3 linked regions of the Homo sapiens genome follow. The protein of the gene in region 1 interacts with the protein of each later gene in a pairwise test. Each region holds a gene or a part of one and is shown in the gene's direction. Other genes may lie near its edges.

Region 1 (7,213 bases):
ACATGGTGGTAGTGAGTGCCTTGGACTTGTGCTCTTGCCAAACGGTGGAGTCTAAGCCACCCTTAGGGCGTTCCAACCCAGAGCTGTCCTGATAAATTTTACTGGCCCGAGACAAGTACTCCCTATGAGTACTTGTCACAGGGAGTACTTGTGTCTGCCCCCAGCATATTCACGTTAAGTGGAAAGGAACACTTAAGGGCCACTCGAGAAGGGGAAAGAAAATGAGGAAGGCGACATGCAGCTGTGAGCAGGGTGAATGGAGAAGGAAGTGCTGATATGCATTGGCACTGGTGGGAGAGCCTCACAGGCACCTGGAAGCTGGTTAAAATGAGCATTAAGATTCTACATCTTCTATCAACTGATACTACATACCTCTTCCTGACTGCTTCTGTTGTGAGTCAGTGCTAAGCTGCTTGTCTCCATTCCCTTTCTCCAACCAGGGAAGCACCTCCCAAAGTCACTGCTCAGTTCTGGGCAGGACATTTCCTGTCTTCCAGGGTCTCAGAGCACACTCAGAGGGAACAATAGTGGTTGCCTCGTCTGGTTTCCTCCCTGAATCCCTCTGCTGTGGGGTTGTAGGGAGAAAATTAGGGCAGCATCTGCCTAATCATCTCTGGTTCCCCACTAGACCTGCCTGGGCCCACTGAAGTCACAAGGGTCCAGCACATATTAATTATTCAGAGCAAGGGCATGGGCGGGCTTTAGAGTTAGAGAGGTTGGCATGAAGGTATAGCACCATCAACCTATTGCTTTATTAGGTTTAGATATTTACCTCCTGGGTCTCTGGCTCTAAAATGCCCATTCCCATGTCTGGTCCTTGTGTATGAGTCATTGTGACAGCCCTGCCAATCACCTGGCCCAGTGTCTGCTACAGAAAGTGTGCTCTAGGCCGGGCGCGGTGGCTCACGCCTGTAATCCCAGCATTTTGGAAGGCCGAGGCGGGTGGATCACCTGAGGTCAGGAGTTTGAGACCAGCCTGACCAACATGGAAAAACCCTGTCTCTACTAAAAATATAAAATTAGCTGGGCGTGGTGGCGCATGCCTGTAATCCCAGCTACTCGGGAGGCTGAAGCAGGAGAATCGCTTGAACCCGGGAGGCGGAGGTTGCAGTGAGTCGAGATTGTGCCATTGCACTCCAGCCTGGGCAACACGAGCAAAACTCTGTCTAAAAAAAAGAAAAAGAAAGAAAGAAAGTGTGCTCCCAGGAGTCGAACCCTGAGTACTCTTCCTGTATTAGGGCCTGGATATGAAAGGTGAAGCTGGACACTACCTCTGTCCCAGTCAGGCCCATCCTGTACTCTGAACTGTAAATGGGCATGATGGCCAGAGACCTACTTTCCACATTTCACATCCCTCCCCTCAATCCTTACACTGAATGTTTACGGAGCAGCTAGTAAACACTGCCAGGTGCTGAAGATAAAATTAAGAGTGAGAGTGGATCCCTGCCTGCCAACTTCTCAGGTGGCGGAGCTCATAGCACAGGAGAGGCCAAAAGCTCACATTCCTCCTATCTCTTTTTTTCACTGCTTATCCTTTCACCACTGTGATCTTCCCCGTGTCCCTGCTTGGGGCTTGGCCCTGTTTCTCTGCTCTTTCCCAGCCTCCTACTTCCATGGATGATCATTCAATTCTATCCTAAAGGACCGAATCGAATTTCTTTAAAAATCTATTCAGCCAGTTTTATTACATCAGTCATTGTTTCACAATCGAGACTGATCCATGGTCAGAGATAAAATACACTGAACAATTTTTTTTCTTTTTTTTTTTTCTTTTTGAGATGGTGTTTTGCTCTTATTGCCCAGGCTGGAGCACAATGGCGTGATCTCGGCTCAGGCAACCTCTGCCTCCCAGGTTCAAGTGATTCTCCTGCCTCAGCCTCCCAAGTAGCTGGGATTACAGGCGCCCACCACCACACCTGGCTAATTTTGTATTTTTTGGAAAGACAGGGTTTCTCCATGTTGGTCAGCCTGGTCTTAACTCCTGACCTCAGGTGGTCTGCCCCCCTCAGCCTCCCAAAGTGCTGGGATTACAGGCATGAGCCACCACGCCCAACCTTACATTTAACAATTTGAAGAGTATTTTTTGACTCTTTGTGCAGCGACAACTTCTGATTTTCATCTCAGCATCTTCACTCTGGGATGATTTTACTCGCCAAACATTAATGAAGCCTCTACTCTGGGCCAGAACTTTTCTAGGCATTAGGGATAGACCAGATAGCAAAAGCAGTGTTTGACTTATATATTCTAAAATGGAAGCAGATGATGAGCAAAGTACTGTATATACATACGACATGGTGGCCGGTAGCACAATAAATGTTATGTAGATAAATGAAGCAGAGTAAAGGGTTACAGATTGGGGGCAGAGAACAGGGTGCTCTGATAGGTCCGGTGGTCAGAAAAGTTCTCTCTGAAAGCAGTAGGAGGAGTCAGGCAGCCAACTGGGATGACAGCCTTGCAAGGCAGAAGGAATAGAAGATGCAAAGGCTATGAAGCCAGAACTGCTTGATGGGTGTGAGAATCAGCAAGGAGGACAGTGATTAGAGCACAGCAGAAACTGGGAAGAGGCACAGGATAGAAGGAGGGGCCTTGTAGGCCTTGGCTGCAACTTTGCTCTTTATTCTCAGGTGAAACTGTTGGAGGATTTTGAGCAGGAGAGTGAAGGGATCTTTTTTTTTTTCTTTTGAAACGGAGTCTCGCTCTGTAGCCCAGGCTGGAGTGCAGTGGCGCTATCTCGGCTCACTGCAACCTCTGCCTCCAGGGTTCAAGCAATTCCCCTGCCTCAGCCTCCCGAGTAGCTGGGATTACGGGCATGCGCCACCACGCCCAGCTAATTTTTTGTATTTTTAGTAGAGACGGGTTTCACCCTGTTAGCCAGGATGGTCTCGATCTCCTGACCTCGTGATCCGCCCGCCTCGGCCTCCCAAAGTGCTGGGATTACAGGCGTGAGCCACCGCGCCCGGCCCTAATTTTTGTTTTAAAGGATTCCCGTGGCTACTCTATGGAGAATATACTATAGGAAGAAAAGAGTGAAAGCTAAGTGATTAGTTGCAGCAGTCTGGGTGAGAAAGAAAGGCTAGGAATCAGGGTGGCAGTGGCAGAAATGACAAGACGTGATTGAATTGGCAATATATTTGAAAGCAGAGCCAACAATTCATGTTGGCTCTAGAATCAGGGATCCATTCAAAGTAGAAAAACAAAATTATTTAAAAACACAAACATCTTAACAGTTCATTTTTAAGTACAGAATAATACCCAGTGGCCAACGGCACTAATAGCAAGACAAGAAATAGAGAATCAAAGATATGTGGGATGCCTGCAATTGACTATTGGATGCTGATTTTGCAGAACTTTTTTATATCTTGTTACTTAGGTTTTGTGTGTGTGTGTGTGTGTGTGTGTGTGTGTGTGTGTATACCATATTATTTCCCTACTAAAGAAGTCACTGTTTAAATACTACCTTTTTCATGAAAGGCAGGACCCCCTGAGGGTCTTCATGATTCTAAAAGGAAGTGTGACTCCCACAGGGCAGCCAGCAGTGTCAATACTTCTCTGAGTGAGATTTAAATAAGAAAGAAAATGTGTTAATAAAACATCAAGCCAAGAGAATCTAGTGGCCACAGACCCACGAAGGAACACTGAGTTGTGCAAGCTACCTAGGTAGAAGGGTGGCTAATCCTTTCAGTTTGAACAAATTTACCTTCTCTGAGACCGGACTCAGCGCTCGCCAAGTCCTCTGCTAACGCAGGCCCCACAACTAGGAGCTAGGGGAGCCTATCCCAGCCTTTAACTGCCCGCCGAGAGACCTACCACAAGCCGGTGGTTCAGCGACCCAGCGCATCCTTTTCCTGGCCACGCCCTCTTTGTCTACACCCTTCCCATCCCGGCCACGCCCCCACGCCGCCGCGGCCCCCCCACTCCCAGCCTAGCCACGCCCCTCCCCCGTCGCGCCGGCGCACCGTCCGTCCGAATGGCCTCGTGGGCGGAGCTTGCGTAGCCTCCCGGACCCCGGCGCACACCGCCCCCCGCCCCCCGCCCCTGGCCACCAAGCGCCTCCGTGGACACGCACTTCCTGCGAGGGCTCCGTGCGCACCTTGGCCGAGCCGAACCGAGCCGAGTCCTGTCCTTCCAGGCCGTTCGCAATGGTGGATGAGTTGGTGCTGCTGCTGCACGCGCTCCTGATGCGGCACCGCGCCCTGAGCATCGAGAACAGCCAGCTCATGGAACAGCTGCGGCTGCTGGTGTGCGAGAGGGCCAGCCTGCTGCGCCAGGTACGTCCGCCGAGCTGCCCGGTGCCCTTCCCCGAAACGTTTAATGGCGAGAGCTCCCGGCTCCCCGAGTTTATCGTGCAGACGGCGTCTTACATGCTCGTGAACGAGAACCGATTCTGCAACGACGCCATGAAGGTGGCATTCCTAATCAGCCTCCTCACCGGGGAAGCCGAGGAGTGGGTGGTGCCCTACATCGAGATGGATAGCCCCATCCTAGGTGATTACCGGGCCTTCCTCGATGAGATGAAACAGTGCTTTGGCTGGGATGACGACGAAGACGACGACGACGAAGAAGAGGAGGATGATTATTAGGCCCTCGACCCTCGGGCCTCGGGGGGGAGGGCCCTGCACGCCGCCACCCCCTCCCCGCAGCCCTCACCCCGCCAGGAGCCACTGCTCTCCCCCTTGCCCTCCGGTCCCCTTACCTACCCGCGCCCGTCTGCTCTCTCTCTTCATTTCTCCGTAGTGCTTGTCTTTGTTCCAGGAATAGCGCTCCAGTTACCTGCTGCTGGGGTCGGGGCTGGAGCCTCACTCACTCGGAAGTGCTTGGAAGTGTCATCTACCCTGGCCATCCCCGGGATCCCTCCCCTGCTAATCTGAACTGTGTCCTGAACCCCAGCTATTGGCCAGGCCCCTGTTACAAACTGCGCAGACCACCCGTAGCCCTGCTGCTGCCACCTGCCCTGCTGCCAGGCTTACATCTTCCCAGAGAACTATGCTGCCACTTCACATCCACTCACCACATCCCACCTACAGACTACCACCTTTCGAGATCAGGACCAACCTGGAAAATGCCAGAGTTGGCTATGCCTTTTCAGACATTGATTTGGACAGCTCACCAACCCCTGAAGGGGCCGTTCAGCCTGGTTAGTTTTCTACCTACTCCGAGTGTCCTCCCCTGCCCCACCAGATTGCTGCAGGGGCGCGGTGTGCCTGGCAGCCAAATTGTTGACACTTCTTTTTTCCTATGCACTGGTTTTACACAGCTGTCATTTTTCTTTCAAAATTGCAGCAGTCCCACAGATGTGTGCATTTGGACAAATAGTACTTAAAAACAAAACAAACAAGCACTCAGCCCAGCTCCTCAATACTACCTGGAAAAAGCATTGGCATTATTTTCAATAAATATCAAGCACTAAAAAAAGAAATGATTGTCTTTTAATGGTTAAGTGCTATCACTGGCCTCTACCACTGTCACTCTGACTACCATTATTCCCGTGGAAATCAGGGAATACAACCAATCCTAGTATTCCCCGCTGTCATCTCCAGGCTGCTGGGGACAGCTACCTCAGGGCTTTGTCAGGGTTCTGATGCTCCCTTCACCAACGCATTTCTTAAAGCCCTGGCAAAGGGTGTGTTCTCTGGGTCCTCCAGGGTGGCGTGGTTAAGGGTTGGCTGAGCAGACGGCAAAGAGAGCAGTATTAATAATTAGACCATAACAATAGGCGTAAACCTGGACATATATATGTAATGCTCCTAATTCTCTGAGCTTTTGGATTCCTTAACACTGTGCCAGGGAAGTTCTGCCCCTTAATCCTTATTGCCTATGTGCAGCTGTTGAGTTCAGACTCCAGAGAGCCAACATAGTAGATTGTCACTTTCAAACTCCAAATAGCCAACATGTCACTTTCAGGTGCTCCAGCTAACATTAAGTCCCGGATCCTGGGCAAGTGCACCCATAAAGATATAGCCTGATCTTAACAAACATTTCGTTCTCCTTGGACAGACATCCTTAGAATTCCCACTCATAGATGTGTCCCAGATTCCTCCCTATGGAAATTAGCAAGATGCTTGGTTATCTCTTAAATCAGACCTTGTACTGCTATCTAGGGGCTATGCTGAGATCTCTGGGCCTGGAGGGTTCAGAGCAGTGAAGGGGGTGGCTGCTGAGAAGAAGCTGCATACCTGTGTGAGGCCATTGCTCCAGGTTAAGTCATTGAAATGTTTAATGCAGAGCAGCTTGGTTGGGGATTTGAGAGGACTGCCTCTTAGAAAGGTTTAGGAGGATATGAGGGGTTCAGAGTTCTCTTTTATATCTGTCCAGATGTCCTCATTGTACCATGTCTGGAGCCAACTTGACTTTATAACCTTTAATTAATTTAGATAACACATTTCCGTACTGTTTAAGGCCTTTTGAGGCAAGATATTGTATTTGTACTGGTAAACCTCAGTGTTGATTAAATGAGATATGGGTCTTCATATTAATCACCTCATAGGTGCGGATTAAATGAGATCATACCCATGAAGCATTTAGAACTTTCCCTGCTACATGGTGAGCACTCAGCAAACCATGGGCTGTTACTCCTGGGCCAGGGAACAGAAGTCTCAGAAAGCAAGTCTCTGACTCTGAGCCTGGCTTTAGTAGGAAAATGTCAGCGTGAAGAGGAGCAGAGCAGGTTCAGGGAGAATGGAAATGAGAGCATGATAAGACCCCATTTACTTTTTGGAGTCTTATATGAAGCAAGAAACAAAGCTGTTTTACGTGGTGGACAGGCAAAGTTCAGGGTAGGAGTTATATCTCACCCCTAGGATAGCTGTTTCTGGAGGGTGGGGACAGGGTTGCGTATGACTTAATAAAAGAGGCTGAGGCTTGGGTGGAAATGAGATCTGGGGCTCTTCAGGGAGCTGCCGCCTCCAAATCTGAATCAAGGAGACAGCTGGTTATTTAGAATTCATTGATCACTTCTCCCAGTCTCCTTGGAAAATATACAAAACCCCTTGGAAGAGAGAGATTATATTTGAGACATAATATGTGTGAGGCCAGATAATTACACTTTCTTCCTAACTAGAAAGGCCTTGAATTGGGGATAAATGTGGAAAAGTGAGCAAGATCTAAAAGGTAAAGGATCCAGTGAGACCAAAAGTCATTTATTCCAAACTGATTATGGCCCAGTTATGCTGAGTGGAGTTACAGAAACATCTTTGAATAAAATGTGATCTCTGCC
Region 2 (7,272 bases), on another chromosome or scaffold:
ACAAATATCTTATAGCGTCCTAAAAAAAAATCCACTTTTACAAAAAAATTATAAATACCACGGCACATTTGGCTTTTTAAAGTTATTTTTTTCTACTCTGTGGGCAAATGCACCCCACAAGGGTCTCTGTGCTCAGGAAACAGTTGCAGTCTCGGAACACCCGTCTAACGCACGTGTGGATTATATTGGCAGTCTTTATATTCTTATGCATTTTCTTCCAGCTTGATCCTCTCCCAGAAAAGGTTTTACAGCAAAGACCCAATGCAAACGCTGTCCGTTCCATGGAGAAAGTCATGGAGATCCACAGTAAGTTGCCTGGCTGGGTGCTCACAGGGGACACGCCCCTGGGGGTGGGACTGCACCACACCCCATCCCTGTCCCCCTATACCCCCAGCTCTTCTCCATCCCACTGCCGGCTGCTTCCCCAGGCCTGCAGCAGAAGGCCTTGCTTTCAGCTGCATTTCTTGAGCTGGTAGAGACTCACATTTAACCCCGACTGGATTTCCCCCGGCCTGCTGGGATGGTTCCATCAGCCCAATTTGTAAGTCTAGAGAATCAAGGCCCAGACAGTCTCAGTGTGGAGTCACTTGCTCTAGGTCCCCAGCTAGCAGCGGGGGCCATGGCTGTGAGCCTGTACCCTGGGGACTCCGGCCTCTTCCCTGGACCAGAGAAGCCCACGTCCTGACCTCAAAGAACCCTTGGCCCTGCAGAGAGGCAGGGTGTAGGCCCTCTGAGTTCTGGCACCGACCCTCAAGCAGCAGGTCCTGGGTGCAAGGGCGTGGCACGCAGCCTATCTCAGAGGCGCCTCCCACACCCTGTCATTGTCGCAAGCCCAGCTTGTCTTGCCTTTGAGATGACCCAGATGGTTGAGACTGTCCACAGAAGCAGGGGTAGTCCAGAGCTCAGCTCCCCGTTTCCCTGTGTGAGGGAGTCCTGGCTTCAGAGCCCTGAAGCTGACCCTGGGCCAGGCCCAGCCCTCCACATACACCCCCTTGCGCCTGACGCAGTACCCCTCCACCCCCAGCCTCTGTGAGGGCCCAGGCAGAAGACCCCTCAGCCCCAGCGACAATCCCCCAGCTCACCTGCTCCCAGAGATAGGAAGGCTCAACCCAGCAGGCTGGCAGCCCCCTGCCCTGGCCACCCAGGGCAGAAAGGGGCCCGTGAGCGTGGAAAGCCAGGCCTACAGGAGCCTCCCTCTGCAGTCCTAGGTGGGCCTGCTCCTGGAGGGACTCGAGCCACTCACAATGGGGAAACATTTCCAGAGATTTTTTGGGTCTTTGTGAGTTTGTAGCCATGCAGTCTTCTGCTTCGTGTCTCTTCAAAGACGGGTGCTTTTAAAATCATAAGGGATCAATCTGGTTTGAGGCTCAGGGTCCCGCAGGACCTTCCCGGGCCTCAGTGCATCCTGCTAAGTTGTAGTCACTGAGCGACTTTCCTCACCCCACCACCCCAGGCAAGTACTGGCGCTGCCTGCAGCGCACAACCTCCACAGCGGGGCGTTCTCTGATCGAGGCTCAGACTTGCGAGAACGAAGAAGCCGAGACGGTCACCGCCATGGCCTCGCTGTCCGTGGGCGTGAAGCCCGCCGAAAAGAGGTGAGCACCTGCCCTGCCGCCCGCCTGCAGGCTCACCCAGCCCCACTGTGCCCACTGACACACTATTCAGGGTCAGAACCTTTATGGCACATGCCCTGCCCAACAGACTAGAGACAGGCCAGTGTGGCCCCCTCCTTCCAGTGCCAAAGCCCCTTAGAGACGCATGAGGAGCATTAGATCCTGAACAGATGGACCCGGGGCTGCCAGGCCAGGGCTAGGCTGGCGGGTGGGGCAGCACACAGCCTTTAACCCACGTTCTGTTCTCTCCTCTCTGTGGTGCACCTGCCCCACGCCCCCATCTCCTTCTCTTGCGGGATCCACAGACCAGATGAGGAGCCCATGGAAGAGGAGCCGCCCCTGTAGCACTCCCTCGAAGCTGCTGTTCTCTTGTCTGTCTGTCTCTGTCTTGAAGCTCAGCCAAGAAACTTTCCCGTGTCACGCCTGCGTCCCACCGTGGGGCTCTCTTGGAGCACCCAGGGACACCCAGCGTGCAACAGCCACGGGAAGCCTTTCTGCCGCCCAGGCCCACAGGTCTCGAGACGCACATGCACGCCTGGGCGTGGCAGCCTCACAGGGAACACGGGACAGACGCCGGCGACGCGCAGACACACGGACACGCGGAAGCCAAGCACACTCTGGCGGGTCCCGCAAGGGACGCCGTGGAAGAAAGGAGCCTGTGGCAACAGGCGGCCGAGCTGCCGAATTCAGTTGACACGAGGCACAGAAAACAAATATCAAAGATCTAATAATACAAAACAAACTTGATTAAAACTGGTGCTTAAAGTTTATTACCCACAACTCCACAGTCTCTGTGTAAACCACTCGACTCATCTTGTAGCTTATTTTTTTTTAAAGAGGACGTTTTCTACGGCTGTGGCCCGCCTCTGTGAACCATAGCGGTGTGCGGCGGGGGGTCTGCACCCGGGTGGGGGACAGAGGGACCTTTAAAGAAAACAAAACTGGACAGAAACAGGAATGTGAGCTGGGGGAGCTGGCTTGAGTTTCTCAAAAGCCATCGGAAGATGCGAGTTTGTGCCTTTTTTTTTATTGCTCTGGTGGATTTTTGTGGCTGGGTTTTCTGAAGTCTGAGGAACAATGCCTTAAGAAAAAACAAACAGCAGGAATCGGTGGGACAGTTTCCTGTGGCCAGCCGAGCCTGGCAGTGCTGGCACCGCGAGCTGGCCTGACGCCTCAAGCACGGGCACCAGCCGTCATCTCCGGGGCCAGGGGCTGCAGCCCGGCGGTCCCTGTTTTGCTTTATTGCTGTTTAAGAAAAATGGAGGTAGTTCCAAAAAAGTGGCAAATCCCGTTGGAGGTTTTGAAGTCCAACAAATTTTAAACGAATCCAAAGTGTTCTCACACGTCACATACGATTGAGCATCTCCATCTGGTCGTGAAGCATGTGGTAGGCACACTTGCAGTGTTACGATCGGAATGCTTTTTATTAAAAGCAAGTAGCATGAAGTATTGCTTAAATTTTAGGTATAAATAAATATATATATGTATAATATATATTCCAATGTATTCCAAGCTAAGAAACTTACTTGATTCTTATGAAATCTTGATAAAATATTTATAATGCATTTATAGAAAAAGTATATATATATATATAAAATGAATGCAGATTGCGAAGGTCCCTGCAAATGGATGGCTTGTGAATTTGCTCTCAAGGTGCTTATGGAAAGGGATCCTGATTGATTGAAATTCATGTTTTCTCAAGCTCCAGATTGGCTAGATTTCAGATCGCCAACACATTCGCCACTGGGCAACTACCCTACAAGTTTGTACTTTCATTTTAATTATTTTCTAACAGAACCGCTCCCGTCTCCAAGCCTTCATGCACATATGTACCTAATGAGTTTTTATAGCAAAGAATATAAATTTGCTGTTGATTTTTGTATGAATTTTTTCACAAAAAGATCCTGAATAAGCATTGTTTTATGAATTTTACATTTTTCCTCACCATTTAGCAATTTTCTGAATGGTAATAATGTCTAAATCTTTTTCCTTTCTGAATTCTTGCTTGTACATTTTTTTTTACCTTTCAAAGGTTTTTAATTATTTTTGTTTTTATTTTTGTACGATGAGTTTTCTGCAGCGTACAGAATTGTTGCTGTCAGATTCTATTTTCAGAAAGTGAGAGGAGGGACCGTAGGTCTTTTCGGAGTGACACCAACGATTGTGTCTTTCCTGGTCTGTCCTAGGAGCTGTATAAAGAAGCCCAGGGGCTCTTTTTAACTTTCAACACTAGTAGTATTACGAGGGGTGGTGTGTTTTTCCCCTCCGTGGCAAGGGCAGGGAGGGTTGCTTAGGATGCCCGGCCACCCTGGGAGGCTTGCCAGATGCCGGGGGCAGTCAGCATTAATGAAACTCATGTTTAAACTTCTCTGACCACATCGTCAGGATAGAATTCTAACTTGAGTTTTCCAAAGACCTTTTGAGCATGTCAGCAATGCATGGGGCACACGTGGGGCTCTTTACCCACTTGGGTTTTTCCACTGCAGCCACGTGGCCAGCCCTGGATTTTGGAGCCTGTGGCTGCAAGGAACCCAGGGACCCTTGTTGCCTGGTGAACCTGCAGGGAGGGTATGATTGCCTGACCAGGACAGCCAGTCTTTACTCTTTTTCTCTTCAACAGTAACTGACAGTCACGTTTTACTGGTAACTTATTTTCCAGCACATGAAGCCACCAGTTTCATTCCAAAGTGTATATTGGGTTCAGACTTGGGGGCAGAAGTTCAGACACACCGTGCTCAGGAGGGACCCAGAGCCGAGTTTCGGAGTTTGGTAAAGTTTACAGGGTAGCTTCTGAAATTAACTCAAACTTTTGACCAAATGAGTGCAGATTCTTGGATTCACTTGGTCACTGGGCTGCTGATGGTCAGCTCTGAGACAGTGGTTTGAGAGCAGGCAGAACGGTCTTGGGACTTGTTTGACTTTCCCCTCCCTGGTGGCCACTCTTTGCTCTGAAGCCCAGATTGGCAAGAGGAGCTGGTCCATTCCCCATTCATGGCACAGAGCAGTGGCAGGGCCCAGCTAGCAGGCTCTTCTGGCCTCCTTGGCCTCATTCTCTGCATAGCCCTCTGGGGATCCTGCCACCTGCCCTCTTACCCCGCCGTGGCTTATGGGGAGGAATGCATCATCTCACTTTTTTTTTTTAAGCAGATGATGGGATAACATGGACTGCTCAGTGGCCAGGTTATCAGTGGGGGGACTTAATTCTAATCTCATTCAAATGGAGACGCCCTCTGCAAAGGCCTGGCAGGGGGAGGCACGTTTCATCTGTCAGCTCACTCCAGCTTCACAAATGTGCTGAGAGCATTACTGTGTAGCCTTTTCTTTGAAGACACACTCGGCTCTTCTCCACAGCAAGCGTCCAGGGCAGATGGCAGAGGATCTGCCTCGGCGTCTGCAGGCGGGACCACGTCAGGGAGGGTTCCTTCATGTGTTCTCCCTGTGGGTCCTTGGACCTTTAGCCTTTTTCTTCCTTTGCAAAGGCCTTGGGGGCACTGGCTGGGAGTCAGCAAGCGAGCACTTTATATCCCTTTGAGGGAAACCCTGATGACGCCACTGGGCCTCTTGGCGTCTGCCCTGCCCTCGCGGCTTCCCGCCGTGCCGCAGCGTGCCCACGTGCCCACGCCCCACCAGCAGGCGGCTGTCCCGGAGGCCGTGGCCCGCTGGGACTGGCCGCCCCTCCCCAGCGTCCCAGGGCTCTGGTTCTGGAGGGCCACTTTGTCAAGGTGTTTCAGTTTTTCTTTACTTCTTTTGAAAATCTGTTTGCAAGGGGAAGGACCATTTCGTAATGGTCTGACACAAAAGCAAGTTTGATTTTTGCAGCACTAGCAATGGACTTTGTTGTTTTTCTTTTTGATCAGAACATTCCTTCTTTACTGGTCACAGCCACGTGCTCATTCCATTCTTCTTTTTGTAGACTTTGGGCCCACGTGTTTTATGGGCATTGATACATATATAAATATATAGATATAAATATATATGAATATATTTTTTTAAGTTTCCTACACCTGGAGGTTGCATGGACTGTACGACCGGCATGACTTTATATTGTATACAGATTTTGCACGCCAAACTCGGCAGCTTTGGGGAAGAAGAAAAATGCCTTTCTGTTCCCCTCTCATGACATTTGCAGATACAAAAGATGGAAATTTTTCTGTAAAACAAAACCTTGAAGGAGAGGAGGGCGGGGAAGTTTGCGTCTTATTGAACTTATTCTTAAGAAATTGTACTTTTTATTGTAAGAAAAATAAAAAGGACTACTTAAACATTTGTCATATTAAGAAAAAAAGTTTATCTAGCACTTGTGACATACCAATAATAGAGTTTATTGTATTTATGTGGAAACAGTGTTTTAGGGAAACTACTCAGAATTCACAGTGAACTGCCTGTCTCTCTCGAGTTGATTTGGAGGAATTTTGTTTTGTTTTGTTTTGTTTGTTTCCTTTTATCTCCTTCCACGGGCCAGGCGAGCGCCGCCCGCCCTCACTGGCCTTGTGACGGTTTATTCTGATTGAGAACTGGGCGGACTCGAAAGAGTCCCCTTTTCCGCACAGCTGTGTTGACTTTTTAATTACTTTTAGGTGATGTATGGCTAAGATTTCACTTTAAGCAGTCGTGAACTGTGCGAGCACTGTGGTTTACAATTATACTTTGCATCGAAAGGAAACCATTTCTTCATTGTAACGAAGCTGAGCGTGTTCTTAGCTCGGCCTCACTTTGTCTCTGGCATTGATTAAAAGTCTGCTATTGAAAGAAAAAGAAAGCGAACAGTTTTTGTTTGTTTTTTTTGCCGTGTGTGCTCCATAGTGGAGGCGCTATTTTCCAATTGATGAGAATGACAAACATATATAATCTATCTATCTATCTATCTATCTATCTATCTATACAGGGGGCTTGAACCTTACTCACCCAAGAGCTTCTTACGGAATGTGGTAGAAAACCAAGTTGTAACGACACTGTAACCTACCTGATGCCTGTTCGCGCCCGCCGTGAGCTGCGCACTGGCCGTGGCCACCATTCACCTCTGTAATTTAATCCGTTTCTCTTGGATTGTCTGGACGTGCCCGATGGTTCTTTCTTTTGCTCAGTGGAGTTGGAGGTTTTGTGTTTGGTTTTCTCATTCTTGTCTTGTTTTGTGTGGGTGGATTTTCACCGACCAATGATATCCTCTTCTGACGGTCACCTTCTTTCCACTTCACTGGAGTCCAGTATTCTGTACCACATCACGCAACGTGTTATCTTGTGGTGTAAATAAAGACTGCGTTACTTGCCCTCCCAGCTCTGGTTTCTGCCCGTGCGCTCTCTTCCTCATTGGCTCTCGCATGTCTGGGACCCTGTGGGCCGAATGGCCAGTGCCCTGGGTCCCATCCGGATGGCTGCATGGGAATCACTGGACCCCATGGGGACGGCCCCTAGACCCAGACCAGCGGCAGGCCCGTCCCCCTCTGCCTGCATAATCAGGTCCCATAGGAGTGTCTTCATTTTAAATGTCCAGTAATTTAAATCTTTACATTATCTTCTCCCCCAAAACACTTACCAAGCCATAGAGAGCTGGAAATAATCTTGGAGAGAACAAGGCCAAAGAGAGAGGCCCAGGGCCCAGGCTTAGCCACCTGCCCACAGCCGGGCAAACACACCTCTGAGACTGGAGTCCAAACACCAG
Region 3 (7,738 bases), on another chromosome or scaffold:
TTCTTGTTTGTTTGTTTGTTTTGAGACGGAGTTTCACTCTTGTCACTCAGGCTGGAGTGCAGTGATGTGATCTCGGCTCACTGCAGCCTCTGCCTCCCCGGTTCAAGCAATTCTCCTGACTCAGCCTCCTGAGTAGCTGGGATTACAGGCGCCCGCCACCATGCCTGGCTATTTTTTTTTTTTTTTTTTGAGACAGAGTCTTGCTCTGTCGCCCAGGCTGGAGTGCAGTGGCACAATCTCAGCTCACTGCAAGCTCCGCCTCCGGGGTTCATGCCATTCTCCTGCTTCAGCCTCCCGAGTAGCTGGGACTACAGGTGCCCGCCATCGCGCCTGGCTAACGTTTTTTTTTTTTTTTTTTTTATTTTTTAGTAGAGCCGGGGTTTCACCGTGTTAGCCAGGATGGTCTTGATCTCCTGACCTAGTGATCCGCCCGCCTCGGCCTCCCAAAGTGCTGGGATTACAGGCATGAGCCACCACGCCTGACCAATTTTTTGTATTTTTAGTAGAGATGAGGTTTCACCGTGTTGGGCAGGCTGGTCTTGAACTCCTGACCTCAGTTGATCCATCCGCCTTGGCCTCCCAAAATGCTGGGATTACAGGTGTGAGCCACCGCACCCAGCCAACCATACATTCTTTAACAACCATTTGCTTTTTTTTTGTTTGTTTGTTTGAGATGGAGTCTCGCCCTGTCACCCAGGCTGGAGTACAATGGAACACACTGCAACCTCCGCCTCCCAGGTTCAAGCAATTCTCCTGTCTCAGCCTCTCAAGCAGCTGGAATTACAGGCATGCGCCACCAAGCCTGGCTAATTTTTGTATTTTTGGTAGACACAGGGTTTCACCATGTTGGCTAAGCTGGTCTCGAGCTCCTGAACTCAAGTGATCCAACCGCCTTGGCCTCCCGAAGTGCTGGAATCACAGGCGTGAGTCACTGCACCCAGCTTCGGATATGCTATTTTCGAAGAGTCTTTTCCATGCTTAAAAACATTTGGGGGCTGGACCGAGTGGCTCATGCCTGTAATCCCAACACTTTGGGAGGCTGAGGTCGGTGGATCACCTGAGCTTAGGAGTTCGAGACCAGCCTAGGCAACATGGTGAAACCTCATCTCTACCAAAAATACAAAAAATTAGCCGGGCATGATGCCACGCACTTATAGCTACTTGGAAGGCTGAGGTGGGAGGATCACTTGAGCCTAGGAGGTGGAGGTTGCAGTGAGCCAAGATTGCACCACTGCACTCCAGGCTGGGTGACCAAGTGAGACCCTCTCTCACCAAAAAAAAAAAAAAAAGCTTGAGTCCAGGAGTTCAGGATCCATTGGGGGAACATGGTGAAACCCCATCTCTACACAAAATACAAAAAATTAGCCGGGTGTGATGGCACACACCTATAGTTCCAGTTACTTGGGAGGCTGAGGTAGGAGGATCACCTGAGACTGGGAGGCAGATGTTGCAGTGAGCCATGACTGCGCCACTGCACTCCAGCCTGGGTGACAGAACAAGACCCTTAGAAAAAAAAATACGAACATTTGGGTTTTTTATTATAAAAGTACTTATGTTGGCCAGGCACAGTGTCTCACACCTGTAATCCATTGGGTGGATGGCTTGAGCCCAGGACTTTGAGACCAGCCTGGGCAACGTGGCAAAACCTGTCTCTACAAAAAATAAAAAATTAGCTGGGCATGGTGGCACATTTCCTGTAGTGCTAGCTACTCAGGAGGCTGAGACAGGAGGACTGCTTAAGCCCGGGAGGTTGAGGCTGCAGTGAGCCAAGATGGCACCATTGTACTTCACTCTAACCTGGGCGACAGAGCAAAACCCATCTCAAAAAAAAAAAAAAAAAAAAAGCTGGGTGCGGTCAGTGGCTCACGCCTATAATCCCAGCATTCTGGGAGGCCAAGGTAGGCGGATCACCGGAGGTCAGGAGTTCAAGACCAGCCTGGCCAACATGGTGAAACCCTATCTCTACTAAAAATACAAAAATTAGTCAGGCATGGTGGCGGTTGCCTGTAATTCCAGCTACTCTGGAGGCTGAGGCAGGAGAATTGCTTGAACCCAGGAGGTGGAGGTTGCAGTGAGCCGAGATTGTGCCACTGCACTCCAGCCTGAATGACAGAGCAAGACTCCATCTCAAAAAAAAAAAAAAAAAAAAAAAAAAAAAAAAAAAAAAAAAAAAAACTTGATATGGGCCGGGCGCGGTGGCTCACACCTGTAATCCCAATACTTTGGGAGGCTGATGCAGGCGGATCACTTAAAGTGGGAAAATCGCTTGAACCCAGGAGGCAGAGGTTGCAGTGAGCCAAGATCACACCACTGCACTCAAGGCTGGGTGACAGAGTGAGACCCTGTCTCAAAAACAAAACAAAACCTGATATGTGGCAAAATACTGAAAGAATGCAGAAGACTGAAAAGCTGAAGTCCTCTTCTTCCCCAGAGCTGCTTCTGTCCTTTGAAAAACATTCTGTACATATTCAAGGCATATTAATCTCTTGTTATACAGGTGATGTTGACAGTGGCCAGCAGATATGTATGTCCCTTTCCTGTAGGTGACAGACCCAATTGCTGCACACAGGTGGTCACAGTAAACAGAAAGCTGGCAGCACTCCCACTTGGAAGGGCTGATAGGCTTGGCCTTAGAGTTGTGGGAGGACACTCCCTGATCAGGGTACGAACCCTTCTCTCTGCCCCTTCCAACTCCTGTGGAGTGTGTCTGTATCTAGTTGGTGCTAACTGCTACGTGCTTGGCAGGGCAAGGCAGGGTCACCACCTCAGCAGGCGTTTGTCCTCCTCCGGCATGATGCTACCCTAGCTGCCCAAGGTTCTAGCCTGTGTATGTTATTACATGGATTTTTTTACACATAAATACATAGACTTCAACTCACTTTTCTTTTTACAAAGTATACAATATACCTTGGATGTATTTATATCCCAAGACAGGGTTCTCATTCTTTTTCATGTGTTTTACTGTATGGGTAATATGGGTAATAATTTTTTTTTTTTTCTGAGACAGAGTCTCGCTCTGTAGCCCAGGCTGGAGTGCAGTGGCGAAATCTCAGCTCACTGAAATCTCCGTCTTCCGGGCTCCATCTTACATGCCCATAATCCCAGCTACTCAGGACGCTGAGGTAGGAGAATTGCTTGAACCTGGGAGACAAAGGTTGCAGTGAGCCGAGATTGCACCACTGCACTCCAGCCTGGGCAACAGAGCTAGACCCTGTCTCAACAACAACAACAAAGAAGGAGGAGAAGGAGGAAGAAGGAGAAGAAAAGAAAAAAAAAAGTCGTCAAAGGATATTAATTGTCGATAGATAACAGATAATGCCAAAAAATATAGAAGCAATTCTTAAAACACAGTGTTGGAACTGGTCCACAGCTCTGATTTTTAATGAGCTCCCATTTCTGAGGCCAATATAAACTTCATTCTATGCTGCCCATCTCTGACAGGTGGGCATTAACTACCAGCCCCCCACGGTGGTCCCTGTGGGAGACCTGGCCAAAGTGCAGCGGGCGGTGTGCATGCTGAGCAACACCACGGCCATCACGGAGGCCTGGGCCTGCCTGGACCATAAGTTCGGCCAAGTGCGCCTTAGTGCACTGGTACGTGGGGGAGGGCATGGCAGTGGGGGAATTCTCCGAGGCCCGCGAGGATCTGGCAGCTCTGGAGGATTATGAAGATGTGGGCATGGATTCCGTGGAAGCTGAGGCTGAAGAAGGCGAAGAATAGTGAGGGGAGGGTGCGGCAGGCAACCATCCCTCTGTATTCCCCACCATAACGCTAGGAGAGCTAATTACCTATTAAAATTTCCGTATTGCAAATTAGCCGGGCGTGGTGGCGGGCGCTTGTAGTCCCAGCTACTGTGGAGGGTGAGGCAGCCGAATGGCGTGAACCCGGGAGGCGGAGTTTGCAGTGAGCCGAGATCGCGCCACTGCACTCCAGCCTGGGCGACAGAGCGAGACTCCGGTCTCAGGAAAATAATAATAAAATAAAAAATAAAATTTCTGTATTGCGATACTGTCTTTCTCCTGTGTTGTACTTTGAGAGATTCCTCCTCCAGATAACCCTCCCTGAAGTCCACCTCCCCAGTACGAGAGTGAGTGCGGGCTCTGGTTTTTGTCGGGTTCTTTCGTGCAAGCGTCCCAGGCCCCGTTTTATTTCTTCCGTCAGAGGTCATTCCGAGGCGAGCTGCCGCCCCTGCGGCTTTCGAGGCTCCCAGGACACTGCCGCTTTCCGCTCCCGGGCCGCTCCCGAACGCTGGGGCCGCTCCATCGTGCCGGGGTGTTTACGGAGAAAAGTGAGGCCTGAGCGGACGAAAGAGAAGCCCACGTGGGCGACAATACTGGTAGTCCAGGGAGCTGGGACGACGCGGGCGCGTCAGAAACTCGCACGCTCGCGCCGCTTACTAACCCAGCTAGCTAGGACCTCGCCCCGCCCCGCCCCGGTGGCGGGGGCACCTCCGGCTCTCCAGTCTCTATGGTACCAACTTCCGGCGCGCGCTACCCCTCGCGAGACTTCGGCGGCGCAGCAATGGCCAGAGCGTGAGTGCCGCTGACAGAAGTCAAGAGAATCGGCTGGGACGGGGTTGGGGCGACAACGGGCCGGGGGGGACCCGACAGGCCAGAGCCCCTTGGGGAGGAGCGGCGGCTGGAGGCGCGAGGCTCCTCCGGATGCCCGGAGAGCCGCTTGCGACTTAACTCCCGCCTCTTTCCCAGATGCCGCGTCACTGCTCCGCCGCCGGCTGCTGCACACGGGACACGCGCGAGACGCGCAACCGCGGCATCTCCTTCCACAGGTCAGCGCGCGTGCGCCGCGGGCTCACGTGCGCATGCGCTAGTTGTTGCTCGCCTCGGGTCGCAACTGCGTAGAGGCTTCGCGCCTTTCTCAGATACTGAGGAGGCTTGAACCTGTGGGTGGGAGGTGAAGCGGAACGGTCCCGGCGGGACTGAATGCAGTCGGGAAGGGGAGGACGGGAAGTCTAGCCGGCTTGGACCCGCCCCACTCTGTTACCTGCCAGATGACGCTGAGGAAACTGCTTTTCTTCTCGAGGCCTCCGTTGCCTCGTCTGTGCCCGGGCGGTGGTGCTTACCCGGCGGGGTCGCAGGGAGGTCTCGTGGCGGCGCGTGTTGGGTCTGCGTTTCCCCTCTGGGGTGCTTGGGCAGCATGAGCCCAGGGCTGTGGACAGCCTGGTGCTCACGGGTTTGTGGCTCCACAGACTTCCCAAGAAGGACAACCCGAGGCGAGGCTTGTGGCTGGCCAACTGCCAGCGGCTGGACCCCAGCGGCCAGGGCCTGTGGGACCCGGCATCCGAGTACATCTACTTCTGCTCCAAACACTTTGAGGAGGACTGCTTTGAGCTGGTGGGAATCAGGTGGGCCTCCCTGCCGGCCGACGCTGGGGTAGGATGTGGGGCTCCCGGCGGACTGGGACAGCTGCAGGTCATGGAAGTCCCTTGAGCAGCCTGCGTCCAAGGGGGCTGTTTCCTGTTCCCAGCTCTGCACAGTGAAACCCACCCCCAGGATCACTGTGCCTGTGACACAAGGGGAAAACAGGAGCCTTTCCAGAGAGTATCTTTCAGAGCCCCAGTCTTGCCAGCAAGTCCACAAATCAAAGAATTCTTTCTGGCTGGTCAGCCCAGCTCGGCTTATGCAGGCTTTCCACACACCTGGACTGTGAGGAGTCCTGCGGGGAAGCGATTGGTGTAGCTGTAACTTGGCGTTCCCCAGACGTATTGTTTGCACGATGCCTTCCAGCATCCCACGGCGCTGCTGCTGGGGGCAGATTGGCCTGGGGAGGCAGCACTTGCTCTCCAGCTCATCTGGGTTGCTTTTCCCCGCAGTGGATATCACAGGCTAAAGGAGGGGGCAGTCCCCACCATATTTGAGTCTTTCTCCAAGTTGCGCCGGACAACCAAGACCAAAGGACACAGTTACCCACCTGGCCCCGCTGAAGTCAGCCGGCTCAGACGATGCAGGAAGCGGTATGTGATATGGGTGGGGGATGCCCCACTCCCACCCCTAGGCTGAGGGACTGGGCCCTAGGGGTGTCTGCCAGCAGTCTCGCTGGACAGGGTTCTTGCTACACAGAACCTGTGGATCGGGTTTGGGTGTTAAGGGTGGATCAGGTGGGCTGGTGGAGGGGGGTCTGGCAAGCCCTCAGCCTAGCCCATCAGTCTCTCTCTTCCCCCTTACCAGCTGCTCCGAGGGCCGAGGGCCCACAACTCCATTTTCTCCACCTCCACCTGCTGATGTCACCTGCTTTCCTGTGGAAGAGGCCTCAGCACCTGCCACTTTGCCGGCCTCCCCAGCTGGGAGGCTGGAGCCTGGCCTTAGCAGCCCCTTTTCAGACCTACTGGGCCCCTTGGGTGCCCAGGCAGATGAAGCAGGCTGCAGCGCCCAGCCTTCACCAGAGCGGCAGCCCTCCCCTCTCGAACCACGGCCAGTCTCCCCCTCAGCGTATATGCTGCGCCTGCCCCCACCCGCCGGAGCCTACATCCAGAATGAACACAGCTACCAGGTGGGCAGCGCCTTACTCTGGAAGCGGCGAGCCGAGGCAGCCCTTGATGCCCTTGACAAGGCCCAGCGCCAGCTGCAGGCCTGCAAGCGGCGGGAGCAGCGGCTGCGGTTGAGACTGACCAAGCTGCAGCAGGAGCGGGCACGGGAGAAGCGGGCACAGGCAGATGCCCGCCAGACTCTGAAGGAGCATGTGCAGGACTTTGCCATGCAGCTGAGCAGCAGCATGGCCTGAGGGGCTGCTGGACTGACCGAGGGGCTGCCCAGCAAGACTGCAGCCTCTTCCTCCCTCAGATCCCACCAGACCCACCAGGTGCCATAATAAAGCGGATTCTAGACGGAGGGCCTGCTGTCTGGCTCAGCTGGGGGCTGGAGCCCCTCTGAGTACTAAGCTTGCTGCCCCAGACAGTGGCTGCAGCTCCTAGAGGGCTCAGTCCAAGCTCTTTGCCAAGGAGAACAGGGAGCCTGGCTCTCACCCCTCAGAGCTACTGGTAGACAGGTGGCAGTCAGCCCTGCTAGCGCAGCTCCGTGCCCCACAGGGTTCTCTGAAGGGGCAGGATGGTGTGAGTAGGGGCCAGGAAGACAGCTCCAGGCGCCCTTTCCATAGGATCTGAAACAGCCCTGACTTAAACCAGCCAGCCCCTTTGAGAACACTTCTAAAACCCAGTCTAGATCCGGTTCTCAAGCAGGAGCATGACAGGCTTCTGTCCACAGGCCCCATCAGCCTGGTGGGTAAGCTGGACAACCCTCTCCCCGCCCCCTTCACTACCATCTCTATTTGAAAAACGGGGATGATGATGACAATCATCAACCTCCTGGGTCATGTCAGCAGGTAGTAAAGCCCCAACAAGCTAGTCCCTGGAAATCTAGGAAGAGGTGGCCAGAACATGGAGACAAGCACTCAGGTCCTGGCCTCAGCATCCTTTTCCTTCAACTCCCAGGAACCTGGAAGGCCTTGCTGCAGCTGCAGTTCTCAAACAGCTCCGTCTTGGGGTGACTCACTGCAAGTATGGCCTCTCCCTGCCGAGGAGCACAAATGAAATTCATTCTAGTCCCAGAAACTGCCACACAATTTCGTAAAATTTGCTTTTTAGGGCCCTTGGCATGTAATTTCATTTATTCATATAAGTCTAGATCAGGGTTCAGTGACAAGGGTCAGCATAGAGCAGGGTTGCAGACTGGTTCAAGGAGGCTTCTGGGTAGGCCCCTCCAGGAGGGATTTGGAGGAGGCTGC

Evidence for each region. The genes of interacting proteins can lie anywhere in the genome.
Region 2: the proteins of LDOC1 (region 1) and HDAC4 interact in binary tests that used the Homo sapiens proteins (3 or more experiments, as listed by UniProt).
Region 3: the proteins of LDOC1 (region 1) and THAP7 interact in binary tests that used the Homo sapiens proteins (3 or more experiments, as listed by UniProt).

What each region holds. Positions count from the first base shown.
Region 1 is NC_000023.11:141,173,948-141,181,160, reverse strand, and holds the start of LDOC1 (protein LDOC1), read left to right. Parts: upstream 1-4,031; 5' UTR 4,032-4,139; coding exon 4,140-4,580; 3' UTR 4,581-7,213. UniProt on the Homo sapiens protein: May have an important role in the development and/or progression of some cancers.
Region 2 is NC_000002.12:239,047,783-239,055,054, reverse strand, and holds the end of HDAC4 (histone deacetylase 4), read left to right. Parts: intron 1-221; coding exon 222-306; intron 307-1,453; coding exon 1,454-1,595; intron 1,596-1,918; coding exon 1,919-1,958; 3' UTR 1,959-6,887; downstream 6,888-7,272. UniProt on the Homo sapiens protein: Responsible for the deacetylation of lysine residues on the N-terminal part of the core histones (H2A, H2B, H3 and H4).
Region 3 is NC_000022.11:20,998,881-21,006,618, reverse strand, and holds THAP7 (THAP domain-containing protein 7), read left to right. Parts: upstream 1-4,500; 5' UTR 4,501-4,707; coding exon 4,708-4,787; intron 4,788-5,207; coding exon 5,208-5,363; intron 5,364-5,831; coding exon 5,832-5,972; intron 5,973-6,186; coding exon 6,187-6,739; 3' UTR 6,740-7,515; downstream 7,516-7,738. UniProt on the Homo sapiens protein: Chromatin-associated, histone tail-binding protein that represses transcription via recruitment of HDAC3 and nuclear hormone receptor corepressors.